Linked DNA regions of Homo sapiens: regions 1, 3, 4, 5 and 6 are each linked to region 2. The links come from fine-mapping of genetic effects on gene expression. A gene starts in region 2. Each other region holds a variant in brackets. All regions are shown on one strand. Distances are between the middles of the regions. Region 1 overlaps ABAT (4-aminobutyrate aminotransferase). Region 2 holds the start of ABAT (4-aminobutyrate aminotransferase). Region 3 overlaps ABAT (4-aminobutyrate aminotransferase). Region 4 overlaps ABAT (4-aminobutyrate aminotransferase). Region 5 overlaps METTL22 (methyltransferase 22, Kin17 lysine). Region 6 overlaps ABAT (4-aminobutyrate aminotransferase).

Region 1 (4,088 bases), 25 kb after region 2:
GATCTGGAAATGCCCGGAACAGTCCAGGCATGAGCAATTGCAGTCAGTGCCTGGGTTCAGATCCAAGCCTTTGGAATCATGTATGAATTTGAAACTCCCTTTCCTCCTGTGCAAGTTAAAGGTTTTTTGTTGTTTGTTTTTTGTTTTTTGGTTTTTTTTTTGGAGATGGGGTCTTGCTCTGTCACCCAGGCTGGAGTACAGTGGTGTGATTGCAGCTCACTGCAACCTCCACCTCCCAGGTTCAAGAGATTCTCCTGCCTCAGCCTCCTGAGTAGCTGGGATTACAGGTACAAGCGACCACGCCCAGCTAATTTTTTGTAGTTTTAGTAGAGAAGGGGTTTCACCATGTTGGCCAGGCTGGTCGCAAACTCCTGACCTCAAGTGATCCACCTGCGTCAGCCTCCCAAAGTGCTGGGATCACAGGCGTGAGCCACCGCACCTGACCCTGTGCAAGCTTTAAATTGCAGGAGGTGATCCTTTGTACATTGGAGGTGGTAGTAGTAATAGCTGACATGATCAGTAAAAATATTCATTGAGATCATACATTCACTTTCTGGAGCTGCCGCAAAAAAATTGTCACAAACTGAGTGACTCAAAACAATGGAAGTTTATTCTCTTACAGTTCTAGAGGCCAGAAGTCCAAAATCCAGAGATCAGTAGGACTGTACTCTCTCTGATGGCTCTAGGGTTCCAACTTTGCCTGCTGCCGGAGGAGTGGTTGAGAATAACTGAGTACATGGCCCTCCTTCAGCAATTGCTCTGTTCTGTTGTGTGGAGAGATCACATTTTGTTTATCTGCTCATATGCTCATGGACCCTTGGGTTTGTTTCCCCCTTCTGGCTCTTTTTTTTTTTTCTTTGAGACGGAGTTCCACTTTTGTCCCCCAGGCTAGAGTGCAATGGCACGATCTCAGCTCACCACAACCTCCGCCTCCTGGGTTCAAGTGATTCTCCTGCCTCAGCCTCCCAAGTAGCTGGGATTACAGGCACCTGCCGCCACACCCAGCTAATTCTTGTATGTTTAGTAGAGATGGGGTTTCACCATGTTGTCCAGGCTGGTCTCGAACTCCTGACCTCAGGTGATCCACCTGCCTCAGCCTCCTGAAGTGTTGGGATTACAGGCGTGAGCCACTGCGCCCGGCCTTCTGGCTTTTATGAATAGTGCTGCAATTGGCAGGGCACGGTGGCTTATGCCTGTAATCCCAGCACTTTGGGAGGCCAAGGTGGGCAGATCACGTGAGGTCAGGAGTTCAAGACCAGCCTGGCTACCATGATGAAACCCATCTCTACAAAAAAAATACAAAAATTAACCAGGCTTGGTGGCACACACCTGTAATCCCAGCTACTCGAGAGGCTGAGGCACAAGAATCACTTGAACCAAGGAGGTGGAGGTTGAAGTGAGCCAAGATTGCGCCACTGCACTCCAGCCTGGGCAATAGGGAGAAACTCTGTCTCAAAAAGAAAAAACAAACAAACAAAAAATAAGTAGTGCTGCAACGAACAGCAGCAGATAAGTATCTGTTTCAGTCCTTGCTCTCAGTCTTTGGGGTATGTACCTAGGGGTGGAATTGCTGGGTCATATGGTGATTCTGTGTCTAACTTTTTGAGGAACCGCCTGTTTTCCACTCTGTGCCACATAGTTTTGGTTGAAGTAGTTACAGAACCGCCCCAGATCAAATGTGGGAAGAGATAGATGCCACCTCCCAGTGAGGGACTACTAGGTCACAGAGGGAAGAGATTGGGGAGGGGAGATGCTGTTGCGGCCATCTTTGGAATGTACAAATGGCCACTTGAGTAGTGATTACTTCATTTATTTATTTTTGCAGGGAATTATTTTTTTTAAAGGGCCTCGGATCACCTAAGGTCAGGAGTTCAAGACCAGCCTGGGCAACATGGTGAAACCCTATCTCTACAAAAATTAGCCAGGCATGATAGCAGGTAC[G/C]TGCAATTCCAGCTACTTAGGAGGTTGAGTCAGGAGAATCACTTGAACCTGGGAATCAGAGGTTGCAGTGAGCCGAGGTCGTGCCATTGCAATCCAGCCTGGGTGACTGACTGAGACTCCGTCTCAAAAACAATAATAAAATAAAATAAAACAGGACCTCACTCTGTCACCCAGGCTGGAGTGCAGTGGTGTGATCTCGGCTCACTGCAACCTTGGCCTCCTGGGCTTAAACGATCCTCCAACCCCATCCTCCTGAGTAGCTGGGACTACAGGTGTGCACCACCACACCTGGCTGATATTTTTTGGTAATTTTTGTAGAGGCAGGGTTTTGCCATGTTGCCCAGGCTGGTGCAGTGAATATTTCCTCTTCTCTTCTCTTCTCTCTCTTTCTCTTTCCCTCTTTCTTTCTTTTGAGACAGAACCCAGGCTGGAGTGCAGTGGCACGATCACGGCTGACTGCAACCTCGACCTCTTGGGCTCAGGTGATTCTCCCACCTCAGCCTTCCAAGTAGCTGTGACTATAGGCGTGTGCCACCTGGCTAATTTTTGTATTTTTTTTTGTAATTTTTGTAGAGACTGAGTTATACGATGTTGCCCAGGCTGGTCTTAAACTCCTAGGCTCAAGTGATCCACCCACCTCTGCCTCCCAAAGTGCTGGGATTACAGGTGTGAGCCACCATGCCCAGCCTGCAGTGAGTAGTTCTTGATGCTTGTCCTGAACGCACACTGTGCTGGGTGTAGGATACAGACATGAGTATTGCAGGTGTGGTTTTTGCCCTCTCACAGCTTGTGGTTACTTGGAGAAGAGCCATTAACTAAAATTGCAAAATTAATTTTGGGGAAAGGGGGCTGGACTTTCCTGATATTCTCTTCCTCCTTTTATCTGTAAGTTGATGAATAACTTAACATAGCAAAGTGCACTAAACTTACATACGCGGCTCCATGAATTTTTACCTGAGAATGCAACCATGTAACCAGCACCTAGATCAAGATCTAGACCGTCCCCAGCCCCCAGAAAGTTCCCTCATACCCCAGTGGGTAACTGCTATTTAACATCTTCACCATAGATTAGCTGAGCCTATTTTAGAACTTTATAAACGGAATCATACCGTAGATACTCCTTGATGTCAGGCGTCTCCCTCTGCACTGTTTGTGAAATCCCACAATTAATCCCTTTTTTAAAGAGACATTGACTTGCTGTCACCCAGGCTGGAGTGCTGTGGCTTGATCATAGCTCCCCTGCAGCCTTGAACTCCTGGGATCAAGCAGTCTTCCCACTCAGCTTCCCAAGTTGTTGGGACTACAGGTGTGCACCACTACACCTGGCGCATTTTAAAACATTTTTTTTTTAAATTTAGAGACAGAGTCTCACTATGTTGCTCAGGCTGGTCTTGAGCTCCCTGGCTCAAGCAGTCATCCTGCCTCAGCCTCCCAAAGTGCTGGCATTACAGGCATGAGCCGCCATGCTGGCCTTAATTCTTTTTTTTTTTTTTTTTGCTTTGTTTTGTTTTTTCTCTTTGAGATGGAGTGTCACTCTGTCTGTCACTCAGGCTGCAGTGCAGTGCTGCAATCTTGGCTCACTGTAACCTCTGCTACCCGGATTCAAGCAATTATCTTGCCTCAGCCTCCCAAGTAGCTGGGACTACAGGCACACACCACCACACCTGGCTAATTTTTGTATTTTTAGTAGAGACGGGGTTTCACCCTGTTGGCCAGGCTGCTCTCAAACTCCTGAACTAAAGTGATCTACCTGGGCCTCCCAAAGTGCTTGGATTGTAGGCGTGAGCCACAATACCAGTCTTGACCTTAATTCTTTAACAACAGCAGTATGGACTGTGAAGGAAACATGTTCTGTGCCACAGGAGCATATAGTAGTGAGCTGTAATCAAATCTGCAGTGAATAACGTGGTAGTGAGCTGTAATCAAATCTGGAGTGAATAACGTGAACACTGGGAAGAGAAGCACTCACCCTTACTAAGCATGCACTATTGGCCAGGCCCTGCCCTTAGAAGGAGAGGGTGAGACCTGCCTGGCCAGAGGCCACAAGCTCTGGAACAGTCCCCGATGGGTTGGACCCCACCTCTGCTCTTCACTATCCGATGTGACTGAGCAGGTGACTTCACTTTGCTGTGCCTCAGTTTTTCCTT
Region 2 (4,088 bases):
CAAAAAGTAAGACAGTACCAAATATACTGTTTTTGCAAATAACTTAACATTTTGAGATTTGTTTTGTTTTGTTTTTGAGACAGGGTCTCACTCTGTCACCCAGCTGGAGTACAGTGGTGTAATCTTGGCCCACAGCAGCCTCAACCTCCCAGGCTCAAGGCTGCCTCAGTCTCCTGAGTAGCTGGGACTACATGCATGCGCCACATCGCCCGGATAATTTTTGTATTTTTTGTAGAGACAGGGTTTCACTATGTTACCCAGGCTGGTCTTGAACTCCTTGGCTCAAGCGATCCTCTTGCCTTGGCTTCCCAAAGTGCTGGAATTACAGGCGTGTCACCACACCCAGCCCCATTCAATATTTCATACCTATGTTTATTGTTCAATTTCATGCAACAATTTCCCTCTGAGTCCCTGCTGTTGTGCATTCAAGTTGTTCCCAGTTTTTCCCTGTGATAAACAAAATGGTAGTAAGCTACTTTATCATTAAATCTTTGTACCTTTAAATGTTTTCAGATAAGTTCATAGGGATTGGATTGCTAGATCAAAGGGTCAACTTACTTTTAAGATTTTTAAAATAGAAATACCCAATTTCCCTCCAGAAAGGCTGTGATCTTTCTACTGCCATCATCAATACATGAAACTCCTTGAAGTCTTTGCAAAGAATAGTAATTATAATAATAAAAACAAGGTCATTTTGGTAGGTAAACTCTTTCCCTCTTTTGGTTTTAACTTGCCTTTCCTTTTCAAAGTGTCATCTCCCATGTTTATTGGCCGTTGTATTTCTTTGGGCAGGTCAAGGGTAGTAAAGGGGATTATGTTCATGGCTTTGGTTTTAAGAAAAAATTGCTAGATTTTCAGCACAGGCCTCATCAAGTTCCTCAAGCAAGGTGACAATCACCCAGGCTAGAGTGCAGTGGTGCCATCTCACCTCAGTGCAACCACTGCCTCTCCATTCAAGCGATTCTCATGTCTCAGCCTCCCAGGTAGCTGGGATTACAGGCAGGTGCCACCATGCCAGGCTAATTTTTGTATTTTTAATAGAAAGGGGGTTTCCCCATGATGGCCAGGCTGGTCTCGAGCTCTGGGCATCAAGTGATCTGCCTGCCTCGGCCTCCCAAAGTGCTGGAATTACAGGCGTAAGCCACTGTGCCAGGCCTCAATTATTCTTATTTACTGCTCTGTGTGTGTGTGTGTGTGTGTGTGTGTGTGTGTGTGTGTGTGTTGGGGGGGAGGGTCCCCAGAGGTGACACTAGGAGGTGAATGATTTGTTTGGCAGCTTTCTATTTATCTATGTGTTTACTTTATCTTAATTCTTTAATTGCAAGGACTATAGCGCTTGTGTAATCAGAGATAGGGCAGCCTGGATTCCTGGACAGCAGGAGGAGAGACCTCAGGGTTCTACAAGACTCCACAGACCAAGTTATCAGTGATCAGGGTGAGTGGGGAGAACCAAGCTGAACTCTTTCTCTGCCTTTAAGGTCTGTACTCTCCATCCATCCATTCATTCATTATGAGGACTTGGTGATCGCCTGTTGTCTTGATGAGCAGTTCTTTGTGTCTTTGATTTTGTCACTGAAAGATTGCATCCTCTTTCCAAATACCTCTAGAAAGCTGTGGGGGGGCTATCCATCCGTCACACCTGAGTATTAATTATCTTCCACACAGCATTTTATACAACGGTAGAAAGGCACCTTCATCATATCTAGGGTCTCGTTTATACCCACGAAGGAGGTACAATCTCTGTTGTCCCAATTTCAGGAAATTGAGGATCAGGAGGCGCAGTGACCTGCTCCAGGTCATGCAGAAGGAACCACCTCTGACTCCCAGCGCCCTGTTTGTCTTCCGGAGCGCTGGGGCCAGGCGGAGGAAAGTAGCTGGGAGCAAGAAGGGCTGGCAGGGCCCTGAGCGCCGAGATGGGGAGTGAGGTGGGGAGGGCGGGATGCTCCTTCCCTTCTCCGCAAAGGAACCCCTTCTGATTCCGACTCTGGAGCTCCAGAGACCGGATCCGAGACGCGGGTGGAGGTGGAGTTACACTCGCCTGCAGCCCTGAGGGTGTAAATGGCCCATTAAGATCCAGGTTAAATCAACCTATGGAGCTGCCCCCCAGAGGGTCAGGGTCCCCACAACTTGACGGGGGTCCTCAGCCGTCTCCTCCCCAGTCCCAGGACTCCCTCCCAGCCCTCGCGGTCCCTCTGGTGGGTCCCGCCCCAGCCCCCGTCTCCCCCGCCCCCGGAGGCTGGACTCTGCCCCCGCCCCGCCTGCCACCTCCCTCCTGGGGGCGGTGGCCCGTGGCGGGCGCACCCATTGGCTGTGGCGAAAGCGAGGGCCGGGGCTGGCGGCGCTGATTGGCCGGGACGCTCGGCGGAGCCAGGGAGTCCGGCGAGTCGCTGGGGGAAGTCGAGCAGACACCCAGCGCTGCCGGAACTCGGGGCGCGCATCCCGCAAGTCGGAACCCGGCGGATCGGATCCCGCAGATCGGAGACGGGGCCTGGAGGTGAGCGCGAGGCGCCGGGTGGCTTGGGACGGGCCCTTCCGAGGGGAGCCGAGAGGAGGTCCTTCTGCCCTGCCCCCAGGAGCAAAACCTGGGCATCTTCTCCTGGAAACGGAGCCCTCATCTTCCCAAGACGCGGGGCCCTCCCCCGAAAAGACAGGGGCTCCCACCCCCCAGAGAGCAAAATACCTTCCTTTCTCCTTCAGAAATGGGCCCTTCCTCCTGGCTCCAGCTCTAGACAGAAGTCCTCTCCCTTTTACCGCTTGAAATAGAATGCGGCCCCAAAAAGTGGTCTCCAGGTCTCTAGAGCCCCCTCACCTCTTGGGAGACTGATGCCCCTTCCCCATCCTTAGAAAACTAAGTTTGGGTGTCTTCCTTCTCCCCTCTCTTTCGGAATAATGGGGGTCTTCTCAGCTTATAAATTACAGTGACCTCCCCCTCCATGACAAATGGAAGCTCTCCCCCCATCATAAGACAAGGAAATCCCGGAGCAGAGACTCTGCAAGTCACCCTCCCACCCCAGATACTGGGCTCTGGAGAGATAGATGATTCACCCTTAGCCCTGCCGGAGACCCCTCCCTACCCGTCAGAGAGGCAGGGTGGCCTCTGACACCACCACATTAAAGGCTTTTGGGGATTTCCCCTCTCCTCCCCAGTAAAGATGTAAAATGAGGGACCTTCATACTCAGGAGCAGGGCAAAGGTCTGGCCACCCCTCCAAGTCATCCACCTCCCTCCACTCCACCCAAGCCCTTTCACACAAACCCCATCCTAGTAACCCCCTGCACCATCCTCCCACCGCTCCCAATCCCATCCTTCTCCACCTCACCCCAACTCCACTCCCACACCTGGCTGCCCCACCTATTTCACATCCTCTCACCTTTCCTCACCCACCCTGGCCAAGGTAAGACTAGAGGGGGTTCAGCGAGATTTAGTAAGACTGGAGCTCTTAAAACTGGGATCTGGGGCCTAGAGGCCCTTCCAGGAGTCTTCAAACTCTGACAACAGAGATGGCCTCTGAGGCAGCAGGACCAGCAGAGACCACCCGCCACCTCTCCCCCGCTCCCTGCCCCAACACACGCACAAAGGCTGTGTTCAATGCATTCTCTCTTGCAGTCTGGGAGGACAGCTGGCCCTCTTCCAAGAGGGCCCGCATTTCCCCCCTAAAGTGTGCACCCCCGCAAGCGCCTGTGGACATTGCCTGGTGGAATTCCCTGGGCACTCAGCCAAGAGAAATGGGTGCTGCTGGGCCCATCCACTGGGGAGGAGACAGTGTTGGCTTTGCTGCTTTGATGAAGCTAGACTAAGGGACAGGATGTTGGTGACCTGGGGGTGGGGAGGGGGTGGGAAGAGCTCTTCTCTGGTGGGTCAGGTTGGGAGGCAGGAGAGAGGGAGGCAGTGAGTTGTGTCTTGCTCTTTGGAGCCTGTGTTGCGGCGTGGAGTCATAGAGAAATGTGTTTTCTCGAGGCCCAAAGAGGTTAGCCACGGGGAGAGGTAAATGGTCCAGTCTGGAGTCCTAAGACCTAAAAGGGCTTCTGCATTAAAGACGTGGCCCCTTCATTTGACAGTTAAACACACAGAGGCACAAAAGGGGAAGA
Region 3 (4,088 bases), 41 kb after region 2:
CTGAAATGATGTGTCTTATCCTTCTGGCTTAAACCAAGCTGGGCTTAAAACATCTTTTAAAAAAAATCTGTATTCTATTTTTTTCTCTCTGTTTATCGCTCTCCTTCTGCCTCTGTTAATCTTTGTTTCTGTGTAGTTGCATCCTGTTTCTGTCTGAAAACCCTTGTCTTTCTGAATCCATCTTTCAGTCTCTCACATTCTGTCTTTCCCCTCCTCCTTCACCTTCCCTCCGTCCCTCTCCCTTGCGCACTTGCCGGGTACCAGCTGAGTGCATCCTTTTCCCAAACCTGCTCTGCTTCCAAGGGGCCCTTTTCTGTCTCCTCCACCTGTCCCCATGTTTTGGGGACTGCCTGGAAATCCGGGACACCCTCCTGAGGAGGGAGCTGGTGCCCAACGGCACCTCTTAGGATGAACCCAGCCAGCTGCGTTCCTGGCCTCTGCAGAATGGCATACAGAAGGCATTTTAAGCAAGCGAGCTGAGCTCGCCGCAGGACTCCGACTACCAGGCACCGTGAGTGCAAATGTGTATGTGTGTCTCTGTGTGCATCCTTACATGTGTATGTATTTGCTGCCATGGGGAGGTGGTGCCAGTGTCTGTCAGTGCCTGTTATCTGTGGTGTTGGGGTGTGCAGGTCGGGGGGGCACACACCCTTGTGCATCTGTGTACATGCGTGCACATGTGCCTGGCTCTCTGTGTGTAGGACACACAAATGTACTTAACAGATTTTTCAAGGACACTTTGTGAACACAGCAGGAGGAGACCCTTTAAAGTGGGGACAAAATAATGAAAGATGGATATAGAAATGATGAGATAAGGAATTGCTCTTATCAATAGGCTTGCAACACCACAGTCCGCCTGCATCTGGTCCTAGGAAATGAAGTGAGGGTCACCTTGAAAAGGCATTTTTGTTCAAGCCGCTAAATAAATCCTTTCCCTTCGTTCTAAGGACAAGAACAGCACAAACACACACACCCCTTTCTCTTTGAAACTCAGGGGAATGGAAGGCTCAGGGGGCGCTGTCACTGGGCATTTCAGATAGAGTTTGCAGTGAGAATCTCAGTTGACAGCCAGGGCGGCTCACGCCAAGAGTAGATGTCAGGAAGCTCTGGACAGCCGCTCTCTTCACATCTTGTGGCTGATTAGAAGTTCATTTTGAATTTTTTCCCAGAAGCAGCCTATGCCCCAAGAGGCAACCAGAAGAAAGCAATTTTAGAAAATGCAATTTCATTTGCAGGGCAAGATGTGGGAATCCTGAAAGGTTGGCGCTGAAGATCCTGCAGTTGGTGTGTGCAAGCTGGCAGCCAGGCCGCTGCCGGAGGAAGGGGGTCCTCTGTGCTTTGCATGTCCCTGGGTATTTGGGAAACTTGGCAGCCGGTTGCTCTAAGTGAACCCTGACTCTGGAGTAGGCACTGGGCACCCTGGCGGAGAGGACAGAGCCGGAGACAAGGACTGGCCTCAGGGAGTTTCCAGTTCAAATAGGAACAGACCCGATCACACGCGATACGCTCACCCTCAGACACATTGCTGCTGCCTGCATTTCCTCCGGGCTGCCATCCCCCTTCCCCTACCCTGGCCTCTGTCTGCCACGACTGCCCTTGTCTACCTGCCAAGCTCTAATTATCGTTAAACATCCCGTCACTGCTTCCCGGAAATCTTTAACTTCCACCCAAGAACAGCTAACACTATACGCCCTCCTCTACCTGCAGAAATCACTTGGACCCTCTGACATCACATGTCCAACCGACCTCTTTCTCCACATTTGCCCGTGAGCTGCACTTCATTTTGCAAGGACATAAAGAAGACTATTCACGCAACTACATGCAAAATGACTGGCTGGGATTCCTAAAACGCCAATGTCTTTTAAAAGGCAAAAGGGCTGAGAAATGGTTCCAGGTTAAAAGAGATTAAAGAGCCATGAGCCCAAATGCAATGTTTGATCCTAGGATGAAGCCTGGATCAGGGGAACAGAAAACACTTGTGGGCTGGGCTCAGTGGCTCATACCTGTAATCCCAGTGCTTTGGGAGTCCGAGGGAGGAGGATCACTTGAAGTCAAGAGTTAGAGACTAGCCTCAGGAATATAGGGAGACCCCATCTCTACAAAAAATAAATATAAAAATAAACTAACCAGACATAGTGGTGTGTGCCTGTGATCCCAGCTACTCAGGAGGCTGAGGCAAGAGGATCACCTGAGCCCAAGAGTTCGAGGCTGCAGTGAGCCATGAGCCATGATCATGCCACTGCACTCCAGCCTAGGTGATAGAGCGAGACCCTGTCTC[T/TA]AAAAAAAAAAAAAAAAAAAAAAACAATTAAAGAAGTTTTAGGGATAAGTGGGAATATCTGAATATAGATTGTATGTTAGATAATAGTATTTATAGTATTTTTATGTCATGAATATGCCAATAATAAATAAATTAAAAAAAGATAATAGTATTTTATTAATGGTACCTTCATGAGAGTGACTTTGTATCTCAGATCATTTGTACTGAGGTTATGTAAGAGAACATTCTTGTTCTTAGAAGATACAGGCTGAAGGATTCAAGGATGAAATATCACAATGTCCACAACTAACTCAAATAATTCAGAAGACAGATAATAGAGTGGGCACGAGTGTGGCAAAATGTTAACAGTTTCGAGGATTACAAGCGGCTGTGGAACTATGTTCATAACTTTTATGTGGGTCTGAAGATTTTCCAGTGCCCAGGCTGGGCACTCTGCTTAGCTTTGCGCGTGGATTATCTCATTTCATCCTCAGAGCAGCTTGGGGATGGGAGAGCTCTATCACACCCATTTTCCAGTGGAGAAAACAGAGGCACAGCTAGTTGTAAGCCCAGGCCACATTATGCCCCCACCCCCTGTTTTGTGAAATTTAGTACTAAAGATACTACATGGCTGTGTGATGTCGGGCAAATCACTTAACCTCTCTGTGATCTGTTTCCTTTTTTCTTTTTTTTGCTACGAGTGGATAATTATAATATCAGAAGGTTGTTCTGATGGGTATTATGATATATAAAGAACTTAGAACAGGGTTTGGCCTAAAGTAAGCGCTGAGCAAGTGTCTGCTGTTGCTGCTGCTAATTGTATTTGTTGCTGCAGTCGTGATCCCAGCACCCTCACCTTGGCCAGTGATGGGGAAACCTGAAGGGTGTTTTTTCTTCTGTACCCAGGGCGTGCTTCATGGGTTTGTGATCTATATGGTCACACAGGGTCCCGTGTTCAGAAGATCCCCCCATGTCACTGACTTGCAATTCGTAACCATTTTCTCACAAGGGGCCTCGAATATTTATTTTATGCACTGGGTCCCACACATCATGTAGCCAGCCCTGTCTGCTCTCCCTTTTTATTGGATCCCGTTGAGAGCCTCTCCTAGACTAAACTACTTGTGCCTACGTCATTGCAGCAGACAGGCCCAGGCAGGCCGTGGCATTTCAGCAGGTCAGATTGTATGTTCCTGTGACCACACTCCAATTCTGATGCAATGCGTCAGCCCGCACAGGCCAGTACAGTAGCCGTTCATCACATCTGGTCATTGAGCATCTGAGACGTGGCTATTCTAAACTGTGATGTGCTGTGAGTGTGAAATTCACACCAGATTTTGAAGACTTAGCACACATCCGAAAAAGAAATGCAAAATATCTTATTAATAACTATATTGATGGCCGGGCACGGTAGCTCGCGTCTGTAATCCCAGCACTTTGGGAGGCCAAGGCGGGTGGATCACTTGAGGTCAGGAGTTTGAGACCAGCCTGACCAACATGGTGAAACTTTGTCTCTACTAAAAATACAAAAATTAGCCAGGAGTGATGGCACACACCTGTCATCCCAGCTACTCGGGAGGCTGAGGCAGGAGAATCGCTTGAACCTGGGAGGCGAAGGTTGCAGTGAGCCGAGATTGTGCCACTGCACTTCAGCCTGGGCAACAAGAGCAAAACTCCATCTCAAAAGTAATAATAATAACTATATTGATTATGTATCAAAATTATTACATTTTAGATACAATGGGTTAAATAAGATACATGAAAAAAATTGGTTTCAGCTGTTTTTGCTTTTTTCATATGGCTACCAGAAAATGTAAAATTACCTATGTGGTTT
Region 4 (4,087 bases), 56 kb after region 2:
TATAAGGTCAATTTTCAACTGCAGGCCACCAAAATGTCACCACGGTATATTTTCCAATGTGACATTTTGTAATTGAAAACGTGTGGGATTGGCTCTCACTTTTGCAGAATATTCAAATGTTGAGTTCTCTGAGACATTCGGAGTTTCAAAAACGTGTTTAATGGAAATTGAATTGTGTGACGCCTCAGTGCTCCCTGTTTCAGACAAGTGGTTTTAAGGGAAAGACATGAACTGCACTTTCTACACAGTTACTCTGTTGCTAAATTAATAGGCTTGCATTGAGTCGGATATCCTGGAATAGAAAAAAAAAATCCATTGAGTTATTAAGAAAAGAGTTTGGGCCATGCACAGTGGCTCACACCTGTAATTCCAGCACTTTGGGAGGCAGAGGCGGGTGGATCACAAGGTCAGGAGATTGAGAACCTTCTGGCCAACATGGTAAAACCTCATTTCTACTAAAAATACACAAATTAGCCAGGTGTGGTGGCACATGCCTATAATCCCAGCTACTCGGGAGGCTGAGGCAGGAGAATCGCTTGAACCAGGGAGTCAGAGGTTGCAGTGAGCCGAGATCACGCCACTGTACTCCAGCCTGGCAACAGAACAAGACTCCATCTCAAAAACAAAGAGTTTGGTTTCTCAGTTAATTCATGGCCACACTTTCCAAGCCCACACTTTCTCAGAAAGTTTCCTCTGGTGAAAAGCAATAAAATTTATTCTGTGAACTACGTCATTTTTATTCATGAAGCCTCATATCAACAATAGCTAGGGGCCGGGCACGGTGGCTCACGCCTGTAATCTCAGCACGTTGGGAGGCCAAGGCAGGCAGATTACTTGAGCTCAGGAGTTCAAGACCATCCTTCACAACGTGAGAAAAACCTGGCTCTACTGAAAAAAAAAAAAATTAGCTGGGCGTGGCGGCGTTCGCCTGTAGTTCCAGGTACTTGGGAGGTGGCAGGATGGCCTGACCCTGGGGGAGGCAGAGGTTGCAGTAAGCTAAGATTACACCACTGCTCTCCAGCCTGAGTGACAGAGCCAGACCCTGTCTCAACAAAAACAAAAACAGCTAGGAGTTTTGTTATTAGCTGGATTAACTGATGTTACAATGCATAGAGGCAGGGGCTTTGGGGTCAGACAGTCTCAGGTAAGCCTATGACTGAGGCCGAATGTCATAACCTCTCTGAGCCTCCCTTTTATCATCTCTGAACAGGGAGATTACCCTACTCCTATAGATGTTTGAGCAAAGAGAAGGGAGTAATGTACCCTTCAGAATGTCTCACAAAGACCAGGCACCATGCCTCATGCCTATAATCCCAGCACTTCAGGAGCCAAGATGGGAGGATCATTTGAGCACAGGAGTTTGAGACCAGCCTGGGCAACACAGCGAGACCCCTGTCTCTAAAAAATATATATATTTAAAAATTAGCTGGGTATGGTGGTGCATGCCTGTAGTCCCAGCTACTTGGCAGGGCTAAGGTGGGAGGATCTCTTGAGCCCAGGAGTTCAAGGCTGCAGTGAGCAATGATCACGCCACTGCTCTCTAGTCTTTCTTTTGTCTAGCCCTTTTTTGTCTTAAAAAAAAAAAAAAAAAAGACCCTGTTTGAATGCTGGATCATCTCAGTGGGTAGAGAGTGTCAGGACTCTGGCCCAGCCCTGTCTAGTCAACCATGGCCAGTAGGGCCAGGTCTATGCCCC[C/T]GCAGAGGAATGGGGAAGTATCTGAGAAGGGGGAGGAAGGAAGTGCAGAGCAGACACCCCAGAAGATACTTCCTGCACCAACCCCACCCCACCCGTGATAGTACCTCAGTTGCCTGAAGACAGGATAATGACCTGTCTCTGTCTTCTAGGAGCTGCCTCCTAGGGCTCTGGGGATGAAACGAGATGGTTCTACAGCACCAGCTGAGAGCCTGCACATAGCAAGTGCCCAGTACTTGATGATGCTTAGAGGGTAAGGACGGCCTCTAATTGATCTTTATGTGCCCTAGTGCCCAGTGAAGGGTCTGGCACACGGTAGGTGTACCATGAATGTTCGTAGCACAAATGCATCAATGGCAACCGCCTCCCTCCTTCATTCACTCTTTCCTTCTAATAATACAGCCAACATTCTATTAGCTCTGTGGGCAGCCACAGCGTGCTGGAACTCGCCATCCTGGGCTCGGTGCCTGATTCTCCACACTATTCCTGCCCTGTGCTGCTGAGCCCACGTGTTTCCCAGCACCTGAACCTGTACTCTGAACCCGCCTGTCATTCCTCCTTGCCCTGTTCTCTCTCCTTGGATACAGGCCTCCCCTCCAGCTGTGGGATCTCTCTAGGTCTGTATTTATCACCTCTGGTTGGCACTTCCTATATGCTGTCATCACAGAAGCAGGGGGTGGGAGAAGCCTCTTGGTCTTCATCCAGGTCTAGGATGGAATTTCTGTCCACTGTGGGGCTGGGTAGAGTTAGGCAGCCCAAGCCAGGGCTGCATGAGGAAAGGGCTGCGTCCCCAGGGTCTGTCACAGAGTAAGTTTCAGGTGTTGCAACTCGCAATAAATCCATGCATTAGGCACAAGCCAGGACTCCTGAGCCAGATATCTCTCAACCCCAACGCTGGCTCCACCAGCAACTTGCTGTGTCCTGGGTAAACCACATGGCTTCTTTTAAAAAAAATAGTTTTACTTTGTTTACTGTCCAAAGTACTCATTAATTGTTTATTTATCAAGAGAAACTATTTCTAATTTTTTGTGTGTGAGACGGTGTCTCACTCTATCACCCAGACTGGAGTGCGGTGGTGTGATCTTGGCTCACTGCCATCTCCGCCTCCCAGGTTCAAGCGATTCTTGTGCCTCAGACTCCTGAGTAGCTGGGATTACAGGCGTGCACCACCACACCCAGCTAATTTTTGTATTTTTAGTAGAGACAGGGTTTTACTGTGTTGGCCATGCTGATCTCGAACTCCTGACCTCAAGTGATCCACCTGCCTTGGCCTCCCAAAATTCCGGGATTACAGGAGTGAGCCACCCTGCCAGCCCAAAGAGAAACTATTTCTTAGCCCCCATATTCATGTTTCATAGTTCAGGAACACAGGTCAGTGATAAACTTCTAGGTAACTCAACCCAAAGAAATTCTTTATATTCCAAAATCACTTTGCACTCTGAACAATAACAGCCATCCTCATCGCTTCTACATATGCCTTGTTTCTTGGTTCAGCCACAGCAAACTTATAGAGAGCTGCAACTCTCAGGGATACAATGACTGCTCCAACAATGTGAAATGGCAGACTCTGGACCAGAAGGCCACACACCTGAGTTTTGTCAAAGCACTGGAAGCCGTGGTAGTTGTCTAGTTGTCCTTGATAGGTATGTCAACCTCAACACCAATGTCTTTCCTGGATCACTTTTCTTTTTTTTTTTTTAATTGTTATTTTAAAAATCACACAGATAACATAAAATTTACCATCTTCACCATTTTCAAGTATACAGTACGGTATTATAAGCACTTTTGTTGTATAGTGAAGCTCCAGAACTACTTCATCCTGCAAACTGAAACTCCAAACACACTAAACAATGTCCTTTTTTCCCTTCCCCCAGCCCTCGGCAACCTCTTTTTCCTCTTTTTCTGTTTCTCTTTTTTTCCTCCTTGAAACAGAGTCTCGCCCTGTCGCCCAGGCTGGAGTGCAGTGGTGCGATCTCAGCTCACTGTAACCTCTGCCTCCCGAGTTGAAGTGATTCTCCTGCCTCAGCCTCCCAAGTAGCTGGGATTACAGGAGCTCACAACCACGCCCGGGTAATTTTTTATGTTTGGTAGAGACGGGGTTTCACTATGTTGGCCAGGCTGGTCTTGAACACCTGACCTCAAGTGATCCACCCATCTCGGCCTCCCAAAGTGCTGGGATTAGAGGCATGAGTCACCATGCCCAGACCCTCTATCTGTTTCTAGGAGGTTGACTACTTTAGGTTTTTTTTGTTTTTTTTTTTTGTTTGTTTGTTTTTTTAATTTATTTATTTTTTATTGATAATTCTTGGGTGTTTCTCACAGAGGGGGATTTGGCAGGGTCATAGGACAATAGTGGAGGGAAGGTCGGCAGATAAACAAGTGAACAAAGGTCTCT
Region 5 (4,088 bases), 43 kb before region 2:
AGCTAGAAGCCAGGTAAGAAAGGGGAGTGATGAAGTGGCGGGAAAAGTGGGACAGGAGAGAGGTTTGGACAGATACTCAGAGGTGGGATCAAAGAGGAACTGCTACCCAGGTATGGGGGCAGAGCAGAGGGGTTTGCTGACTCTAGGATTTGAAATCTAGGGACCTGGCACTCTAGAAACACCGGGAGCAGTAGGGAGCTGGGCCAGGAAGTGATCGGTCCTGGTTAAGCACCTATCGTGTTTTGGATATCTTCACTAGTATCGAGTGGCCTAGTCTGCACAACCCCTCCTGAGGGGGTGCATGGATGAGGAAGTGAAAGGCCTAGCGCCATGCTGCTTGGTGGTGGTGAGCGAGCTTCGAATCCACACAGTGTCCACACCAGGGCTTTGCCTCCCCCTGGCGCTGCTCATTTGGGGAGCGGAGCTGTGATTTGAGGCCGTTCATTGAGATCCAGGGTCCCCGATGGTGTCTTGAGTTCCCAGGGAAAGGCCTCCCCCAGCACTGGCCTTTGGTCAGAGAATGGGGGTCAGTGGGTCACTCTCAAAAACAGACAAAACAGCAGCTCTGTATCTATCTGCTCAGCAAACAGTTACTAAGCGCCTCCACGGTGGTACCAAGCAGCCTCTGTTCTAGACTGTCCCAGAGAGGGCAACGTGGAACTCATACCAGAACCCAGTTCCATGTATCCCATGGGTGACCTCTGCCCTCATGGCCTCTGCAGATAGGGATGAGTATTCCCATTTCACAGAGGAAGAGACTGAGGCTCAGCGAGGTTGAGGAACTTGCTGGGGTCACACAGCTAGTCAGTGGCAGAGCTGAGACTTGTACCTAGGTCTGTCTGACGCCACAGCCTGTGCTGTCATTCCACATCATGGGGGCAGAGCTTTCGAAAGAGGCTTGGAAAGTCCTGCTTCTCAGGGGGGCCGACGATGGCTCATTTCCCTCTGAGCCCTCACTGTTATTAGCCTCCCCAAGCTGGGGAGCAAACCTGTCAGTTACTCCACAGTGAATTGTTGTGTCTGTAGTGAATGTTCTGGGAATTTACCATTGTATGAGCTAAGAACAAAGTCCCTCGGGAAGAGGCTGGCCTGTGACCAGCTTCCCCTCCTGCCCTGTTCCGGTGACCTCACGGTGAGGCCCCCTTGTCTGTATACCTGGAAGTTCACTTTTTCAGCTGTCAGTCACTCACTACCTGCCCTGACGGAGGAGAGTGGAATGGTAGCTAATGCATGAACCTAGGTAGTAATTCGTGATTATTTCAAACTGGCTAGAGCACTTTCATCTGCAAAACTTGATCTAATCCTGCAGGGCTGGATTTTGAGCCCAGCTCCATCTTCACAAGCCAGGTGACCAGAGACAAATGTCTTACCCACTCAGAACCACATGGTCAGAACCACGTGATCAGGGGAACCACTGTCCCTGGGTTTTAGTGATAATTTATTGAAACATGCCCAGTGAGCGCCAGGAGCAGGGCCTGGCGCAGAGTTGATGGTAAGCAGACGTCATTCGCCTCACAACCCTTTTCCTCTGACCCGTAAATCAACCCATTTTTTTCAAGTTATAGACCCATTTGAGAAACTGGTTTTTCTAAAGAAAAAGAAAAATAGGTGTTTTCTTAACTATTCCAAGGGATTGACAAAACCTTAAAAAGTTTATCCAGGGATCTGCCAGGAATCCACAGACCCAGGATTCAAAAGAAATTATGTTCAATTCCCCCACTGTAGAAATAAAGTGAGACCCCAAGAGAACTCGAGAAAGGCAGGGCTGGAACTCAGGCCGTCAGATTCTGAGTCCCGTGCCTTCCTGCTGGAGAATCGGGCAAGTCGCTTAGCCTCTCTGAGTTCAGTTTCCTTGTCTGTACAAGGGGTACAACCTCCTCCAGTTGTAAGGAATTCAGAGAGACAGCACATACAAAGCTCTTAGCGTAATGCCTGGCACGGATTCAGTGTTCCGTAAATGTAAGCCTCTGTCCTGGGGACTGGCCCAAGCTGGGAGGAGGGAGACTGGCTGACGAACAGTCTAGGTTCCTGCAGGTCTAGAGACCCAGTTTGCAAATGAGATAAGACGTAATTCTAGAATCTGATAAGGACAGGTGAGATTCTAACACTGTCTCATCCCATTGCTAGCCCTAGAGTTTCTCATGGGGATAGTTCCTCAGGCTGGTCTTTTATGTTCTCATGATACCTTTGGGATTATTTAAATATAAACTCTGACTTTTCACAGGAGTGGGAGCCCCAAGATGGCCCTGGGTAGGGAGGTCCCTAAGTCACCTGGGCCTCCACCCCTAGACTGAATCCTTCTTCCTCACCCCTATGCAGCCACCTGGACCGCGCCC[G/A]GCCCAGGGCTGACATACTGGGCATTTGTTGTGATCTCTGACTATCCTGATGAGTCATGAAGAAGCATATTTACCCATTCGAACACTAGCAAGTGCCTGAAACGGGGCAGGGGTCGGGTAGACCTCGGAATCTCTGCACTCCGGAGTCGAGGATGTCAGACACAAGAAAGGAGAGTGCCCTTAAGGTCGGCCACACTCAGCTTCCTGGGGAATTCATTCTGGCTTTTTCCATCTGGCCCCAGGGAGTTGCACAGCATCCGCTTCTTCCTTTGATCCATCCCTGAGCCTCTTGTTCTCTCCCTTATCAATTCGCCCTGGTGTTTTCTCGTGTTATCAGCATCAGCAGAAAGCACATCTTAGATCAGTTCTTGGTCAGACTCCCAAATGACTTCATTTTAAATCCTCTTTTGTTTCTATTTGGCTTTAGAAAAATATGGGTCTCACTTTGCACTTCGTTACCCAGGCTGGTCTCAAACTCCTGGCTTCAGGCGATCCTCCTGCTTTAGCCTTCCAAAGTGCTGGGATTATAGGTGTGAGCCACTACCCGGCCATCTCGACACATTTTGATCTAATTAGATGTTTTTTTCTCAGACTATGACCCTGGGCTGGTCATGTCCCCCTTCTGGGCTTCAGTGATCTCCACCTGTGCAAGGGCTGGGGTCCTTGACCACCTCAATGGTTCTCAGATGTCTGCCGAGCCTGTGCTCTCTCAGAAGCGCTGTCTGGTTAAACACTGTTACAGCCTTAGAAATGAGGGATGAGGCTACTTCTGCATTTTGCAAAAGAGGAAACTGTAGCTCTGTCTCCAAGAAGTTAAGTGACTTGTCACCCAGCTAGGAAATGACAAAACTGGGTTGTCATACAGGTCTCTGACCTCAGAGTCCTCATTCTCCCTCAAGGGAAGCTAGCCACCCATTGAGGACAGCTGGGAGGCAGAACTTACGTCCACGAGACCCCTGGAAGGAAGTGACCAATCACATAGGACCAAGATCACTATGAGAAGGTTCCCCTGGCAGCAGGAACCCTTAGGACAGCTGGGGTTAGGGAGCAGATGGCAAGGAGGAAGCTTTCCCAGGCCAATGGAGGGAGAGGAGAGGAGAGGAGGCTACGAGCCACACCCAGGAGATGGCATGGGTGGGACTGGGGAAGAGGAACTGGGCAGGGACGCTGACACAGAGGGCCTGGGGTCTGTAGACCACAGACACCCCTTCCCCTCCACGCACAAGCACACAAGCCTTCAGCCTGCCCAGCGAGTCCCTGTCCCTTTCATCCTGGGAGGCTCTGCCCCAGGCTTTTTAAACCGTGTCCCTGGCATGGTTCAGATTCTACATCTCCCTTCCCCAAGCAGGCTGAAGAGCTAGAAAAGGCCGGGCACGGTGGCTCACACCTATGATCCCACTTTGGGAGGCCAAAGCAGTGTATCACTTGAGCCCAAGGGTTTGAAACCAGCCCTGGCAACATGCTGAGACCCTATCTCTACAAAAACTACAAAACTAAAAAAATTTAGCCTGGCATGGAGGCATGCACCTGTAGCCCCAGCTACTCGAGAGGCTTAGGTGGCAGGGTCACTTGAGCCTGGGAGGTGGAGGCTGCAGTGAGCCTTGGCCGTGCCACCACACTCCAGCGTAGATGACAGAGTGAGACCCTGTCTCAAAACAGAAAGAGACAGAAAACTGCAGATGACCTGACTTGGAACCCCGCATCTGCCACTCACCCTCTCTGTGACCACAGCCTGCTAACCTCACCCAGCCA
Region 6 (4,088 bases), 99 kb after region 2:
GTGGTGGTTGCGGTGAGCTGAGATTGCGCTATTGCACTCCAGCCTGGGCAACAAGAGTAAAACTCCATCTCAAAAAAAAAAAAAAGAAAACCAAGAAAAGTATCTCAGAGCTTCCTTGGGGTGACTGGTGGAGACCAAGGTCAAAATCATATCACCCAAACAGAGGCTTTTTCTTAATTGTACATAATAAAGAAAGCTTTCACTTGTTAGTCTATCTAGGTGTACGGTTTAGGGTTTTTCTTTCTTTTTTTTTTTTTTTTGAGACAGAGTTTCACTCTCTTGCCCAGGCTGGGGTGCAGTGGCACGATATCTCGGCTCATTGCAACTTCTACCTCCTGGGTTCAAGCGATTCTCGTGCCTCAGCCACTGGAGTAGCTGGGAGTACAGGCGTGAGCCACCATGCCCAACTAATTTTTGTATTTTTAGTAGAGATGGGGTTTCACCATGGTAGCCAGGCTGGTCTGGAACTCCTGACCTCAGGTGATCTGCTCGCCTTAGCCTCCCAAAGTGCTAGGATTACAGGTGTGAGCCACCATGCCCAGCCTCTTTCTTTTTAACAAAGACAGGATCTTGCTGTGTTGCACAGGCTGGAGTGCAGTGGTGTGGTCATAGCTCACTGCGATCTCACAGTCCTGGTTCAAGGGGTCCTCCCACCTCAGCCTCTCAAGTAGCTGAGACTACAGGCACGCAGCCACCATGCCCAGCTAATTTCTAAATGTTTTGCAGACATGAACCGCGCTATGTTGCACAGGCTGGTCTCAAACTCCTGGCCTCAAGGTATCCTCCTGCCTCAGCCACCCAAAGTGCTGGGATTGCAGGTGTGAGCCACCACACCTGGCCCTTAGAACAGTTTTTTAACCGAGGATATATCTCCGATTCTGCCCCAAAAGGATTCTCACACCAATCATAGCAATAATACTGTAAGAATAGGAACAATAATAATCAATAATAATATAGTCGTGCTAATCGTAATAGTAGCAGCCACCACTTTATGTGTGCCAGACTCTGCTGTATTTTCTCTCTGTCTCTGTGTGTGTGTGTGTGTGTGTGTGTGTGTGTGTGTGTGTGTGTGTGTGTGTGAATGCTCTCACCTTTATTTCTCTCAATATACCCGTGATGTAGCTATTTCCCACATAACAAGGTTAAGTGACAGGTGCATGTTCCATGTAAAACAGAGGCAGAACCACAGCTAAAACATCTGGCCCAGCAATCAACTCATAGTGCTATATTTTCTCATTCAGTCCTCTCCACGACCCTGGAAGGTGGATTCTGTCAGTGTGCCCATACAACACATCAGGAAAGTGAGGCTTCTGAAGCTAAATTACTTGCCCCAATTTATTAGTTTGTATCCACCCAGGTGCTAGCACCGATTTCAAGTAGGATACATTCCCATCCACACACATAGCTTCTAACAGAGGCTTCACTGGTCTTAGGAAATGCACACAAACACATTTCCAATAAAATTGCATGGGGCTCATCGAACCCCAGATTCCCACCCACGGATACTGGTCACAAGCCTCTGCCATCGGTGGTCACTTTCCCCTTTGGGATCCAGGTGGAGGATCTGATTGTGAAATATCGGAAAAAGAAGAAGACGGTGGCCGGGATCATCGTGGAGCCCATCCAGTCCGAGGGTGGAGACAACCACGCATCCGATGACTTCTTTCGGAAGCTGAGAGACATCGCCAGGAAGGTCAGTGGACAGGGCCGAGGTTGGATGGAGCCATTGGGTTTTCTGGGTTGAGTTCCCCGAGTAACGGGCCAGCAGCACCTCTGCCTTGGAGCTTCTGTCAATCTCCAGACTTGCAGAGGCTGTCTGTCAGCATCAGGGGTGGAGAAGTTGGGGTTGGTGAAAGAATGGGGATTCTTCCCTAAAACTATACACACACACACACACACACACACACACACACACACACACACATATATATATATTTTTTTTTTTGAGACAGAGTCTCACTCTGTTACCCAGGCTGGAGTGCAGTGGTGCAATCTCAGCTCACTGCAACCCCTACCTCCCAGGTTCAAGTGATTCTCCTACCTCAGCCTCCCGAGTAGCTGGGACTACAGGCACACGTCACCATACCCAACTAATTTTTGTATTTCTAACAGAGACGAGATTTCGCCATGTTGGCCAGGCTGGTCTTGAACTCCTGACCTCAGGTGATCTGCACACCTCAGCCTCCCAAAGTGCTGGGATTACAGGCCTGAGCCACCACACTTGGCCTTAAAATCTTTTTAAAAAACCTTTTTGGATACATAATAGTTGCAGTGCGTAATGATCAAATCTGGGTAATTGGATATCCATCACCTAAAATATTTATCATCTCTTTGTATTGGGAATATTCCAAATCCACTCCTATTTTGAACTATGCAATAAATTATTAACTAAAATCACCCTATTGTGCTACTGGACACTAGATCTTATTCTTCTATCTAACTGTACTTTTGTATCCATTAACCAACCCCTATTTATCTCCACCTCCCCATTAGCCTTGCCAGCCTCTGATAGGCGTCATTCGACTCTATTTCTTCATAAGGGAA[G/A]TGTTTTTAGTTCCCACCTGAGTGAGAACATGCAATATTTGTGTATGTGTGGCTTATGTCACTTAACATAATGTCCTGTAGTTCCATCCACGTCATTGCTAATGACATAATTTCATTCTTTTTATGGCTGAATAGTATTTCTTTGTGTATATGTACCATATTTTCTTTTTCTTTTTTTTTGAGACAGTCTCACTCTGTTGCCCAGGCTGGAGTGCAGTGGCACGATCTTGGCTCACTGTAACCTCTGCCTCCTGGGTCCAAGTGATTCTCCTGCCTCAGTCTCCCAAGTAGCTGAGATTACAGGTGCACGACACCATGCCCAGCTAATTTTTGTATTTTCAGTAGAGACGGGGTTTCGCCATGTTGGCCAGGCTGATTGGCTCAGACTCCTGGCCTTGGGTGATTTGCCCGCCTCAGCCTCCCAAAGTGCTGGAATTACAGGTGAGAGCCACCGCGCCTTGCCGAGTGTGTATATGTACCATATTTACTTTATCCATTCATCCATCGATGGACAGATTGATTCTGTATCTCGGCTATTGTGAACAGTGCTGCAATAAACATGGGAGTGCAGGTATCTCTTTGACACACTGATTTGCTTTCTTTATATTGTGTGTTTGTTTTAATGTCTTGTGCATATATAACTGGCAATCAAACCGATAAGTTCACAGATAAAAGTTATAAGACGTGAGTTGACTTAACACAGATGCTGAGTTAGAAATAGCCTTGGTGACAAGCAGAACATGGCAGCTGAAGTTTGAGAAGCACATTCGAGGCCTCACTGTTGGACACAGCTCCCTCTGACGAGGTCGAGACCCGAGACTGAAGCCAGATGACATACCGCTCTGTGTTGGTGCAGGGAGTATTTAATGTTCTGGGTTTTTTTGGTCCAGCTTAGCAGTTTTAGGAAACACTCAGATTCAGCTCTGGTTGGAACTGCTCAGCTTAAGTGTTTTGATTAGTTTTTTTTGTGCACAGCTCAAGAACATGGGGCTGGTTTGCTCTTCAGAAAACAAGCACGATGTGTGTGGACCCAGGGTTTGGCAGTTAGCTGGCTATGGAGGGCATGAATTTCTGGCCTCCCACGGGTGTTTATTTCTCCCTCCTCTCTCTTCTCCGGCCAGCATGGCTGCGCCTTCTTGGTGGACGAGGTCCAGACCGGAGGAGGCTGCACGGGCAAGTTCTGGGCCCATGAGCACTGGGGCCTGGATGACCCAGCAGACGTGATGACCTTCAGCAAGAAGATGATGACTGGGGGCTTCTTCCACAAGGAGGAGTTCAGGCCTAATGCTGTGAGTTGGAGCCAACCTTCTCTCTACATCCAGGGCAGAGAAGGGAGCATCCTCTTCTCCTAACTGTTCCTTTCTCACCATCGAGGAGCTGGGTGGGCACTTACTGGGTCGCAGGTTTTCTAAGTCCCAGTTCTTATCAATGCAATTAGCAGTGGTGTGCCCTCCCAGCTCTCTCTGTAAGGCCAACTCTGGAACAGTCCACCATCAGCCTTTTCCTGTTTTCTCTCTGTGTGCACACACAATAATATCATCGAC

The links.
Region 1: its variant is fine-mapped to the expression of ABAT in whole blood (TOPMed, PIP 0.93).
Region 3: its variant is fine-mapped to the expression of ABAT in whole blood (INTERVAL, PIP above 0.99).
Region 4: its variant is fine-mapped to the expression of ABAT in whole blood (TOPMed, PIP above 0.99).
Region 5: its variant is fine-mapped to the expression of ABAT in whole blood (TOPMed, PIP above 0.99).
Region 6: its variant is fine-mapped to the expression of ABAT in whole blood (TOPMed, PIP above 0.99).

The regions. Positions count from the first base shown.
Region 1 is chr16:8,697,492-8,701,579 of GRCh38, forward strand. All of the region lies in intron 1 of ABAT (4-aminobutyrate aminotransferase), which reads left to right. Among named protein-coding and RNA genes, the nearest start is that of ABAT, 25 kb to the left of the region's middle. The variant G/C (reference allele first, on the strand shown) is at 1,942.
Region 2 is chr16:8,672,218-8,676,305 of GRCh38, forward strand. ABAT (4-aminobutyrate aminotransferase) reads left to right here and starts at 2,400. Exons shown (of 16, transcript NM_020686.6): 1 at 2,400-2,494. RefSeq lists enhancers at 1,397-1,898, 1,899-2,398 and a silencer at 1,993-2,452.
Region 3 is chr16:8,713,355-8,717,442 of GRCh38, forward strand. The region is part of intron 1 of ABAT (4-aminobutyrate aminotransferase); the gene reads left to right. Among named protein-coding and RNA genes, the nearest start is that of ABAT, 41 kb to the left of the region's middle. The variant T/TA (reference allele first, on the strand shown) is at 2,279.
Region 4 is chr16:8,728,255-8,732,341 of GRCh38, forward strand. All of the region lies in intron 1 of ABAT (4-aminobutyrate aminotransferase), which reads left to right. Among named protein-coding and RNA genes, the nearest start is that of ABAT, 56 kb to the left of the region's middle. RefSeq lists an enhancer at 3,800-4,087. The variant C/T (reference allele first, on the strand shown) is at 1,696.
Region 5 is chr16:8,629,618-8,633,705 of GRCh38, forward strand. All of the region lies in intron 3 of METTL22 (methyltransferase 22, Kin17 lysine), which reads left to right. Among named protein-coding and RNA genes, the nearest start is that of METTL22, 10 kb to the left of the region's middle. The variant G/A (reference allele first, on the strand shown) is at 2,337.
Region 6 is chr16:8,771,225-8,775,312 of GRCh38, forward strand. ABAT (4-aminobutyrate aminotransferase) reads left to right here. Exons shown (of 16, transcript NM_020686.6): 12 at 1,556-1,693; 13 at 3,666-3,833. Among named protein-coding and RNA genes, the nearest start is that of TMEM186, 24 kb to the right of the region's middle. The variant G/A (reference allele first, on the strand shown) is at 2,545.